Linked DNA regions of Homo sapiens. The protein of the gene in region 2 interacts with the protein of the main gene of each other region in a pairwise test. Each region holds a gene or a part of one and is shown on either strand. Other genes may lie near its edges. The genes, in order: MYOZ3, ATXN1L and KRTAP19-7.

What was found.
Region 1: the proteins of ATXN1L (region 2) and MYOZ3 interact in binary tests that used the Homo sapiens proteins (3 or more experiments, as listed by UniProt).
Region 3: the proteins of ATXN1L (region 2) and KRTAP19-7 interact in binary tests that used the Homo sapiens proteins (3 or more experiments, as listed by UniProt).

Annotation. Positions count from the first base shown.
Region 1 is NC_000005.10:150,671,251-150,675,003, forward strand, and holds part of MYOZ3 (myozenin-3), read left to right. Parts: intron 1-346; coding exon 347-400; intron 401-504; coding exon 505-658; intron 659-865; exon of another isoform or gene 866-1,089; coding exon 1,090-1,252; intron 1,253-3,753. UniProt on the Homo sapiens protein: Myozenins may serve as intracellular binding proteins involved in linking Z line proteins such as alpha-actinin, gamma-filamin, TCAP/telethonin, LDB3/ZASP and localizing calcineurin signaling to the sarcomere.
Region 2 is NC_000016.10:71,843,701-71,847,453, reverse strand, and holds the start of ATXN1L (ataxin-1-like), read right to left. Parts: upstream 1,479-3,753; 5' UTR 1,350-1,478; intron 1-1,349. UniProt on the Homo sapiens protein: Chromatin-binding factor that repress Notch signaling in the absence of Notch intracellular domain by acting as a CBF1 corepressor. Binds to the HEY promoter and might assist, along with NCOR2, RBPJ-mediated repression.
Region 3 is NC_000021.9:30,560,362-30,563,223, reverse strand, and holds KRTAP19-7 (keratin-associated protein 19-7), read left to right. Parts: upstream 1-1,909; 5' UTR 1,910-1,934; coding exon 1,935-2,126; 3' UTR 2,127-2,349; downstream 2,350-2,862. UniProt on the Homo sapiens protein: In the hair cortex, hair keratin intermediate filaments are embedded in an interfilamentous matrix, consisting of hair keratin-associated proteins (KRTAP), which are essential for the formation of a rigid and resistant hair shaft through their extensive disulfide bond cross-linking with abundant cysteine residues of hair keratins.

The DNA.
Region 1 (3,753 bases), on a different chromosome or scaffold from region 2:
AATGCTAGCTAAGCACTTTGCAGGTATCTCATTTAATGCTCATAGACCCCTCTGAGGAAGAGATCTTCATCACCATCATCCTCATTCTATCGAGAAGGACATTGAGGCTCAGGGAAATTAAGTATCTTGCCCGGACTCGGCATTACAATAGCAATTAACATATATCGAGTATTTCTCGGTCCCAGGCACTGGGTTTAGCGTTGTAAACTAGTAACTCATCCTTGTTCCCCGATGATGGGCGTTAGGATTCTTGCCTCCCCCCGACCTTTTTTTTTGGTGGAGGGAGAACCCTGGTCCCCTGCCCCGCTGAGCTTCTCTGCGGTTTATTCTACCCCCTCGTTCCCAGATGCTGGCCGGAAGCGCCAGGAGGAAGGTGACTGGAACAGCGGAGTCGGGGACGGTGAGCGTGGAGGGGAGCTCCCTGGAAGGGAAGCTGGGGGAAGGGGAGCGCGGCTGGGGGCGGGAGGTCGTCGGTGGCCTCTGAGAACCCGCCCCTGTGCCCAGGTTGCCAATGCCAATGGCCCTGAGGGGCCGAACTACCGCTCGGAGCTCCACATCTTCCCGGCCTCACCCGGGGCCTCACTCGGGGGTCCCGAGGGCGCCCACCCTGCAGCCGCCCCTGCTGGGTGCGTCCCCAGCCCCAGCGCCCTGGCGCCAGGTGAGTGGCCTCCTCGGGTCCCGGGACCAGGGCTGGGGGGCCTGAAGCATGGGTGTGCTCCCCATGGGGCAGGAAGAGCACCCAGAAGGCTAGTCCGCCCCCTTCCCCAACACACACGCGCACGCGCGCACTCCCCTCGCCAGACCACGAGCCGGAGGGGCGCCGCGCCCCAGGTCACACAGCGAGTCAGCCAAGGCCAAGACCAACCCGCGCTGCGAACTCGTGGCTTCCTCACTGCAGTCCTCCGTGTTTCCTGGGATGGGGAGGGGTCTCCTGTGCTGGAGCAACTGTGGCTTCCCATTCCCGCCGTCCTCTCCCCTAACTCCGATCTTCCCTCCTCCAACCGCGTCCGCGGAATGGGGGTGGGGCGAGGTGGGGTTGGGGGCTGAGGGTGGAAGAACGGAGGCGCTCCCTTCCCCCCGCGCCCCTAGGCTATGCGGAGCCGCTGAAGGGCGTCCCGCCAGAGAAGTTCAACCACACCGCCATCTCCAAGGGCTACCGCTGCCCTTGGCAGGAGTTCGTCAGCTACCGGGACTACCAGAGCGATGGCCGAAGTCACACCCCCAGCCCCAACGACTACCGAAATTTCAACAAGTAAGGCGGGGCGGGCAGCCCGGGGGACAGACCGGGAGGGGCGGGAAGCCAGTCACAGCCACAGCGGGAGCCTGCGTTTCCTGAGCACTTTCTGCAGGCCAGGCTCTGTCCCCAGCGCTTTCTATTCATTGACTGAGCTCTGGCTGGAACAGCGCCTCCGCACCTGGTAGGTGCTCAGTTAACGTGGGAGAAATGAAGAGTGAAGGTGCCGCACATCTTGGATATTCTCCAGGACATGGTGGGCGGGTGCTATGAGTTTTCCTGTTCTGCAGATGAAGAGGCTGCGGCTCAGGAATATGAACAACCCGGCCAAAGCCACAAAACAAGGAAGCACCGGCAGGGCCGGGATTCAGGTCTGGGTTTGTCTGACTCCAGAGCCCAGTGCCTTGTTCTCCATGGCTGCTGTGTGCTACCTCTTTGATGAACATCTAGATTTGTGTCCTTCTCTGAGGGGTCCCCAGATTTCAGCAGTTCGAGGCCAGCTCAGCTTTTCCTTTCACCAATGGCCTAGAAGAGGCCAACAAGGTAGCTTTGAGGCTGCCCCAAAGTGGAGAGTGGCAGTGAAACATTGGACGCCAGAGTGAGGGCCACAGCGCAGTGGCCTATATGGGTTTAGAGCGTGAGGCCTCCACGTGGACTTGAATGCAGACCCCAGGCCTGCCCGTGTTGACCTTGGGCAAGTGACTTAACCTCTCTGAGCCTCCATTGCCCCACCTGTAAAATGAGGGGTTTATAGTACCTGCTTCATAAAGTTGCTATGGAGATGACACGAGAAGCCATAGGTAAAGTTTCTGGCAAGTAAGACACTTGCAACAAACAATAGCTATTATTGTTGTTGTTGTTATTATTATTATTTGAGACGGAGTCTCACACTGTCACCCGGGCTGGAGTGCAATGGCGCAATCTCAGCTCACTGCAACCTCTTCCTCCTGGGTTCAAGCGATTCTCCTGCCTTAGCCTCCCTAGTAGCTGGGATTACAGGCGCCCACCACCGTGCCCGGCTAATTTTTTGTATTTTTAGTAGAGACAGGGTTTCACTATGTTGGCCGGGCTGGTCTCGAACTCCTGAACTCGTGATCCACCCGCCTTTGCCTCCCAAAGTGCTGGGATTACAGGCATGAGCCACCGCCCCCGGCGTATTATGATTATTATTTACAGCTGAGATGAAGTTTGGACAGGGGAGAGCTTGAAAGGGATACATTTACCATTCTGCACTGAGGGCCTGAAAACAAACCATAGGAATCAAGACAGGAGCTTGGCACTGGGGGAAGGCCTTGGGCTGAGGAGTGCATGTTAACTGCATTGGCTTCCTTGGTCTGGTGCTATTTTTGAATATGCTCCTCTGGTTTGGGCTGCATTTAGTGAGGAAAAGGGGAGTCCACAGAGAGGACGCCACGGTCCTGCTCTTCTGGCATTTGCTCAGACCACACGTGGAGACTGGGTCTGTCTAAGACAGACGGGTGGGCGCCAGAGCCTAGCTAGGCCTGGAAAATCAGCACATATGAGGAAGGGCTGAAGGAACTGGGGGTGATCTGCCTTGAGAAGAGACAGCTCCAGAGGGATGTGACTGCCCTCAAATATCTGAATAGGCAGAGACTTCCTGATGGGAAGAATTGGGCTTAGCATGCGCTGTGTGAGTCACGAGCCATTAACAGACATTCTGGAGTTCCCTGGCAGGCAGGACTGCCCTATCTCCTCCTGGGCCCTCAGACCCTGCCTGCCCAGTCATTTGAAACCTGCAGCAGACATTCAGTCCTGGCAGGCAGCTTCCAGGCTGGGCCACTCAGGTTGCATCTCCCACTGATCTCATGCCTCATGTATGACAGCAAGGCACATTCCCACCAGCAGAAAGAGGCTCTTAGGGAGCCCTGCATCCAGACCTCTTCTGAGGGAGAAAGACCAACTGAGGCATAGAGAAGAGAAACAGCAGTTTGGGTGGCCAAGATGTGCTCAGCTTCCAGGGTCCTGGGCTCCCAGTCAAGGGCCTGACTGTGGGCCTTGCATGGCTTGGACACCACCCAGCCTGTTCCTGTGAGGCCTGGCTGTTGCCACCAAAACTGGGGTGGTCCAGGCAGAAATGCTTTCCTGGCTGGGACTCAGGCCCTGGCTCAAGGTTTGTCTTTCCACCCCAGAGGCAAGCACTCTCCTCTTCCCACTGGTCCCAGGCTGCTGGAAAAACAACACAAGCAATGATTTTTATTTTTCTTAAAATTAAGAAACAGTATTAAGGCCGGGCGCAGTGGCTCATGCCTGTAATCCCACTTTGGGAGGCCGAGGGAGGCGGATCACTTGAGGTCAGAAGTTCAAGACCAGCCTGGCCAACATGATGAAATCTCATTTCTACTAAAAATACAAAAATTAGCTGGGCTTCTTGGCACACACTTGTAATCCCAGCTACTCAGGAGGCTGAGGTGGGAGAATCGCTTGAACCTGGGAGGCGGAGGTTGCAGTGTGCCGAGATCCTTCTACTACACTCTAGCCTGAGTGACAGAGCAAGACCC
Region 2 (3,753 bases):
TTTCAGGGTTAAAAAAAAATGAGCATATGTGTGTGTGTATGTAAAATTTTCTGAGTGACAGTATACCAAGTGCTGAATCAGGTATGAAAGAAACTGAAAATATTGCCTTGGTCCTCAGCTGGCTAACACTGGTGAAACAAAACTACCACTAAACCATCACTATGTGAATCTACACTTGCCAGAAACGCAAAGCGAGAAAGAATGGAGCCTTAACCTCTGAAAACAGAGAAGGCAGTACAGATGAGTGAGTGCTCTGAGAAACTGACTATCCTGTCCAAGTCCTATAGAACACTCTAAGCCTCAACCCAAACCGAATGCAACATTTCTCTCTTAAGATTGGCAAGGTGCAGGTGTACACAAAAGGTGGAAGGATAGGAAAACACAGTGGGAAAACAAATTCCTAATTCCACAAACACATATTATTACACAGTGGCATAAATAATGACTCTTTTCTCCACCAGCAGCTTTAATAACTGAAAAGCAGCTTGCTTTCTTCTTCATTCCCAACAGAAACTGGGGTCACACTTCAATCCCAAAATGATCCTTGCTTTCTGTAACGAAAACTTTAAAGAAAACCTGCCTCCAGGTCACCGAGAAGTTAGCAAACACAGGCTAGTAAAGGGACCGAAAGAGGCAAAAGGTCTGCAGAAAGGAAAACAAAGAGCCAAGCCTGTGCGCCAGGTTCCCACAACGCAAAACACACTTAAGAATCCGAAACCTCCGCCTCTCGAGAACCTCACTGAGCATCTCAAAGGGAAAACGCAGCTTGTGACCCCAACCGAGCTAACAGGCTGTTCAGGAGAGTTGCCAACGCTGCTAGCAGAGCCCGGAACCAAGCTCCTCATCACGCTTGGGTCGGAATCAAGGGGCTGAACCCAGCTGGAGACCCAAATTCTCTGCGGGCGAGAGGTGCGCCCGACAGAAAGGGAGAAGCTTGTCAGAGACTACGGTTATGGCTCCCAGTGGTCCCGCAATCCTTGATCCAACAAGGGTAGGGCTCGAAATTGGGAATTCTGCGTTTAGAGAGTAGGGGGTCCACCCTTCACCAAGGGGGCAGGGGCGAGGCCCTGCAGGCGACGCTTCCTTGTTTGGGGGCCCTTCCCGCCCCACAGACTCGGACACCTTGGCTCGCAGGCACACAGCCTCCGGGGCGCCGGGGCCTGAGGCCACCTTCCAGGACAGGCCAGAGAGAAGCGCGAGGGGGTCTAGGTGCGGCCTCTCCCCTCCGTCTGTCCACGGTTCATGGGCCCCGGCCCGCCGGAGCAACGGGCTCCTGAGGGCCACTTCCTCCGGAGCACCGACCCCAGGCCTGCCTGGCCCCGGCGGCCACCACTTCCAGGGACACTCACCAGCCCATTTCACAGCGCTTCCCAGGATCCACTCACTCGTCCCGGAGCCGCCGCAACCGCGGCCGCCGCCATCCCCGGCCCCGGAGCCGCCCCACACCCAGCGCCCCCCACAGCCGGGCGCCCGGAGATGGCGTCAAGCTCGTCCCGCCCCCGGCGCGGAGAGATTGCGTCACGGCCGGGGTGGGAGAGCAACGCCCAGGACTCCCCGGGAAGGGAGGGTGCCACACTGCCTTCGCGTCGGGCGTTCCCTCTGGTGGGTGAACAAACTCCTCTCCCTGGGACCGGGTCACGTGAATAGGGCTGGGCCCGGCCCCCTCAGCCTGACCCCACAATGACCCCGCAATCTTTCCACCTCAGTAAATTTTGGGGGTTCCCAAACAGAGCCCCGGGGCGTGGTCATCGGCGACCCCCCATTTCCTGGACTTCTTGTCCTGACTTGTGCAGCCCCTTCTGGGGAACTTCGGGGGACCCCGAGGTGACCTAGGCTCAGGAGAAAAGGAGATACCTCTTACCTCTTGGGGACCCAGGTGGAGATAGGAAGTCTTCTTTTTTTCTTTTCTTTCTTTTTTTTGGAGACAGTTTCGCTCTTGTTGCCCAGGCTAGAGTGCAATGGCACGATCTCGGCTCACCCAACCTCCGCCTGCCAGGTTCAAGCAATTCTCCTATCTCAGCCTCCCGAGTAGCTGGGATTACAGGCATGCGCCACCACACCTGGCTAATTTTTTGTATTTTTAGTAGAGACAGGGTTTCTCCTTGCTGGTCAGGCTGGTCTCGAACTCCCGACCTCAGGTGATCCCCACACCTCGGCCTGCCAAAGTGCTGGGATTACAGGCGTGAGCCACCGTGCCAGGTCAATAGGAGCTCTGTAAGTGTTGAGAAGTGGCCCCCGAGGGAGCTAAGAGTGAACCCCACTCAGGATCTAGGGGAAGGTGACAAGGAGTGGAACACCTGAAAGTTTAGAGAGAGCCCGGGGTTTAGTACAGTGAGAAGCAGCTTGGTTTAGTGGAAAGAGGGCTTGACTACTCAGTGAAATATTATTCATTACAAATTAACTAATTATTCATTACAAATTAACTGGTCAACTTCATAGTAACATGAACATCTGATTAACTTAAGTGAAGACAAAAGTGAGCGCCAGTTGAATTTATGTTTGAATAACAACTGTGTTTTTGTTGTTGTTTGTTTTAAAGTATTAGGTTGGTGCAAAAGTAATTGCGGTTTTGGCCACCGAAATGGAGACTTTCAGTTTCTTCAAACTCTGTTCAATAAATAACAATTGGGCCAGGCGCGGTGGCTCACGCCTGCAATCCCAGCACTTTGGGAGGCCAAGGCCGGCGGATCACGAGGTCAGGAGATCGCAGACCATCCTGGCTAACACGGCGAAACCCCGTCTCTACTAAAAATACAGAAAATTAGCCGGGCATGGTGGCGGGCACCTGTACTCCCAGCTACTCGGGAGGCTGAAGCAGGAGAATGGCATGAACCCGGGAGGCAGAGCTTGCAGTGAGCCGAGATCGTGCCACTGCACTCCAGCCTGGGCAATAGAGTGAGACTCCGTCTTAAAAAAAAAAAAAGAAAAAAAAAGATATGTCATTGCAGTTGCGTGTATGTGTGTGTGTGTGTGTACATATAATTTTTTTTTTTTTTTAGCCCTGTCGCCCAGGTTAGAGTGCAGTGGTGCCATCTTAGCTCACTGCAGCCTCAAATTCCTGTGCTCAAGCAGTCCTCCCACCTCAGCCTCTGGGGTAGGTGCGATGATAGGCATGCACTACCATGCCCAGCTAATTTTTTAAAATTTCTTGCAGAGACAAGGTCTTGCTATGTTGCCCAGGCTGGTCTTAGACTCCTGTGCTCAAGTGATCTTCCCTCCTCGGCCTCCCAAAGTGCTGACATTTCAGTCATGAGCCAACCACACCCAGCGTCGGTTGTATGTATTTCTGTGTATCTGTACAGAAAAGGAGTAGAACACATAACTAATTAACATTGGTTATTTTTGGGAAGGAAAGTGGAATTGGGTGGTGGTCAAAAGGCAAAGAAACAACTTATATTATTGTTTGAATATTTAGGAGAATATTATCTTAGAAATAAAAAAAGTAAGTTGAGATCCAGATACAATGCATGATCTCTAAGATTCTTTCTAGGGAAGCCTTAGATCTCAATTATATTTTCTCACCTGGATGGACACATAGGGCCATAAAAAATTATCAAGTACCACACAGACACACACACAGACACACACACACACGCACACATACACACAGCACAAATGGGAAAAAACATAGTGAAGTTACTGCTGTCATCTAAATCATCTGAGTGTTTTGCTTCATTAATATTAATATTGTTCATGACAGTCTCCTTCTCTCTCAGTTTGGCCAAGAAGGAAGTCCTGTGGTCACTCAGTGTG
Region 3 (2,862 bases), on a different chromosome or scaffold from region 2:
TTCGTGGACAGGCAAAGTTCACATACGTGTTAGCTTCACTTTTAGGAATCAAATAAAGCAGAGGACCCTAGAAAATAATTCCTAGATTGGAGGTTCTGGGATCTTCTATTCCTGATAATAATATTTTCCCTACCAAGCAAATATATCTGGTTTTATCTGGATTGTGACAAGTGCTAAAGATAATAGTCTTTTTAAAAAATTACCTAAAATTATATTGAACCTACATTTTCTTAACTGAAGCAAATTCAAATACAGCAATTCTTTACCATTAATAATTCCCTTCAACTTGTAGTTTGCAAAGTTCCCTCAGGATGGAAATATGTTAAGTACCTAGTTATGTAGCACTTTTAATAAACTGGTAAAGGAAATAAGTTTAATCAGTATAAATGAAGTTCAAAAATAACCTGTATTCTTTGAGGTTCCTGGATAAAGAAAATGTGGCACATATATACCATGGAATACTCTGCAGCCATAAAAAAGGATGAGTTCATGTCCTTTGCAGGGACATGGATGAAGCTGGAACCACCATTCTCAGCAAACTAACACAAGAACAGAAAAGCAAACACCACATGTTCTCACTCATAAGTGGGAGTTAATCAATGAGAACACATGGACACAGGGAGGGGAACATCACACACCAGGGCCTGTCAGGGGGTGGGGGACTAGGGGAGGGACAGCATTAGGAGAAATACCTAACATAGACGATGGGTCGATGGGTGCAGCAAACCACCATGGCACATGTATACCTATGTAACAAACCTGCGCGTTTTGCACATTTACCTCAGTACTTAAAGTGTATATATACATACATACATGTATATATATATATATACATATATATATATATATAGCAGGAGTAGCTGAGCATATATGCTTACTGGTTTCATGTCATTTGCTTTTATTTATATTGATGATATGAAACAAAAATATAAGGCAGCTGGGCATTGTGGGAGAAGATATACCCTAACCTGCAATCTTTGATTTCAAATGCATCTGCTGAACTAAGGCCAATAATCAAAGTACTTAGGTTTTAGTCCTAATCTGCCACTAAGTTTCACTGTTGCGTAACTCTGCTTGTCTCTCTGAATCCATTTTTCTCATCAGTAACAAGAACACTGAAATAAATGATGACTCAAGTCTCTTTAATTCTATAATTATATGATCCTATGATAGTACGAAATTTAGAATCTAGACTAAGATTAAATTTGGGGAGAGGAAACTATTCATAAGGGATTGGCAGGGACTTTATGCACACTTTAATGGTATCTACTAAGCAGGCTGGCTCTACATGAAGCATAATATTTGAGAAATTCCTTTGACATTAATTTGTGACTCTTTTAAAAATTAAATATCATCATTCCACTATAAAATGTGGTTCCCAGCTGACTTTAAAAGCACATTGTATAAAGACATACATCATAGTTGATTGCCATTTCAGAGAACAATAATGTTTCAATTTTTGTGAATTCTTGGCAGAATAAAGATAACATCCTTGGCTTAGAAAAGGCTCAGCAGCCATGGACTGTCAAAGGAAAGAGTGCAATCAGAGGATAAATGTAATTGCATGAGATGCAATTTGAAGAATACTTGAAGCTATAGAGATTTGTTTATGGCATTTGAAACTCAGAAACTCATACATGTACAGTGAATATAAATGCAACTACATTTTATTAGAGGCAAAACACTTATCTAGAAATCCAAATAAAGCAGAAAATAAAACATGTTGTATAATTTCTAAATAACTAGCTTCATAAACAAGGAAGAGAGTGGGATGGGTGTTACAAAACAAGATAGTTGGCATAGTTTTCAGGTAACACGTTCTAAGGGATGACATTTAAAGGTGTGGCTTTCCACATGCATCAGAGTATATATAAATGTTCCTGTCCAGTCACAGTCACCAAACTGACCTACAACAGCTAACCACTTCTGACAACATGAGCTACTCCGGCAGCTACTATGGAGGCCTAGGCTACGGCTGTGGAGGATTCGGTGGCCTGGGCTATGGCTATAGCTGTGGATGTGGCAGCTTCCGCAGACTGGGCTATGGCTGTGGCTATGGAGGCTACAGATACAGCTGCTGCCACCCATCATGCTATGGGGGATACTGGTCTTCTGGATTCTATTGAATAAATACTTGAAATATAGTCTTCTGTGAGATTCCCAATTCTTCCAAGAAACTTTATTCCATAACCATATGGAATTCCATATTCCATAACAAAACAGCTGCTTGGATCACCTGCCTTTTGACAATAGTGTGAAGAAAACTTGATCAACTAGATATTGGCATTTGATTAGTGATGTTCTCCAGATATTCACTTTTTTATTGGCTGGAGAGCCATTATACTCTAAGAAAGATTGTCTTTCAATATCTGATATCTAACCATGAACTTTTTCTCATGTGGTAAATGTGTTTTGAGCCTCAAATTTTTATCACAATAAATGTGCTGTGATGCATTAATATAATCAACCATGGTGATATTTTCTTCTTATAGATAAAAAAATTACCAATACGTTATATGTCACGATTATTTCTTCACCCTCCTCCTCCTCGTCATTCTTCCTGTCCCTTAAACCTTCTTCCTCCCTTTCCATCCCTTTCCTCTCCTTTATCTTCTTTTCTTTATCCCCTTCTCCTTTGTCTTCTTCCTCCTCCTCATCTTTAACATTCTCAATATCTATATTTTCTTGTCCAGGCAAACAGGAATTCTACACCAAAAGGTTAAAGATGCTTCTGTGGTGATAAACTTCTGCTTAATCTTTTAATTCACTATTTCTTGGAGAATATCTTGATAATTTCAGAGCAATATAATAAGAAAAGGTTTTAGCTTGCACATAGATTATAACATTGGAGAACAACAGTGT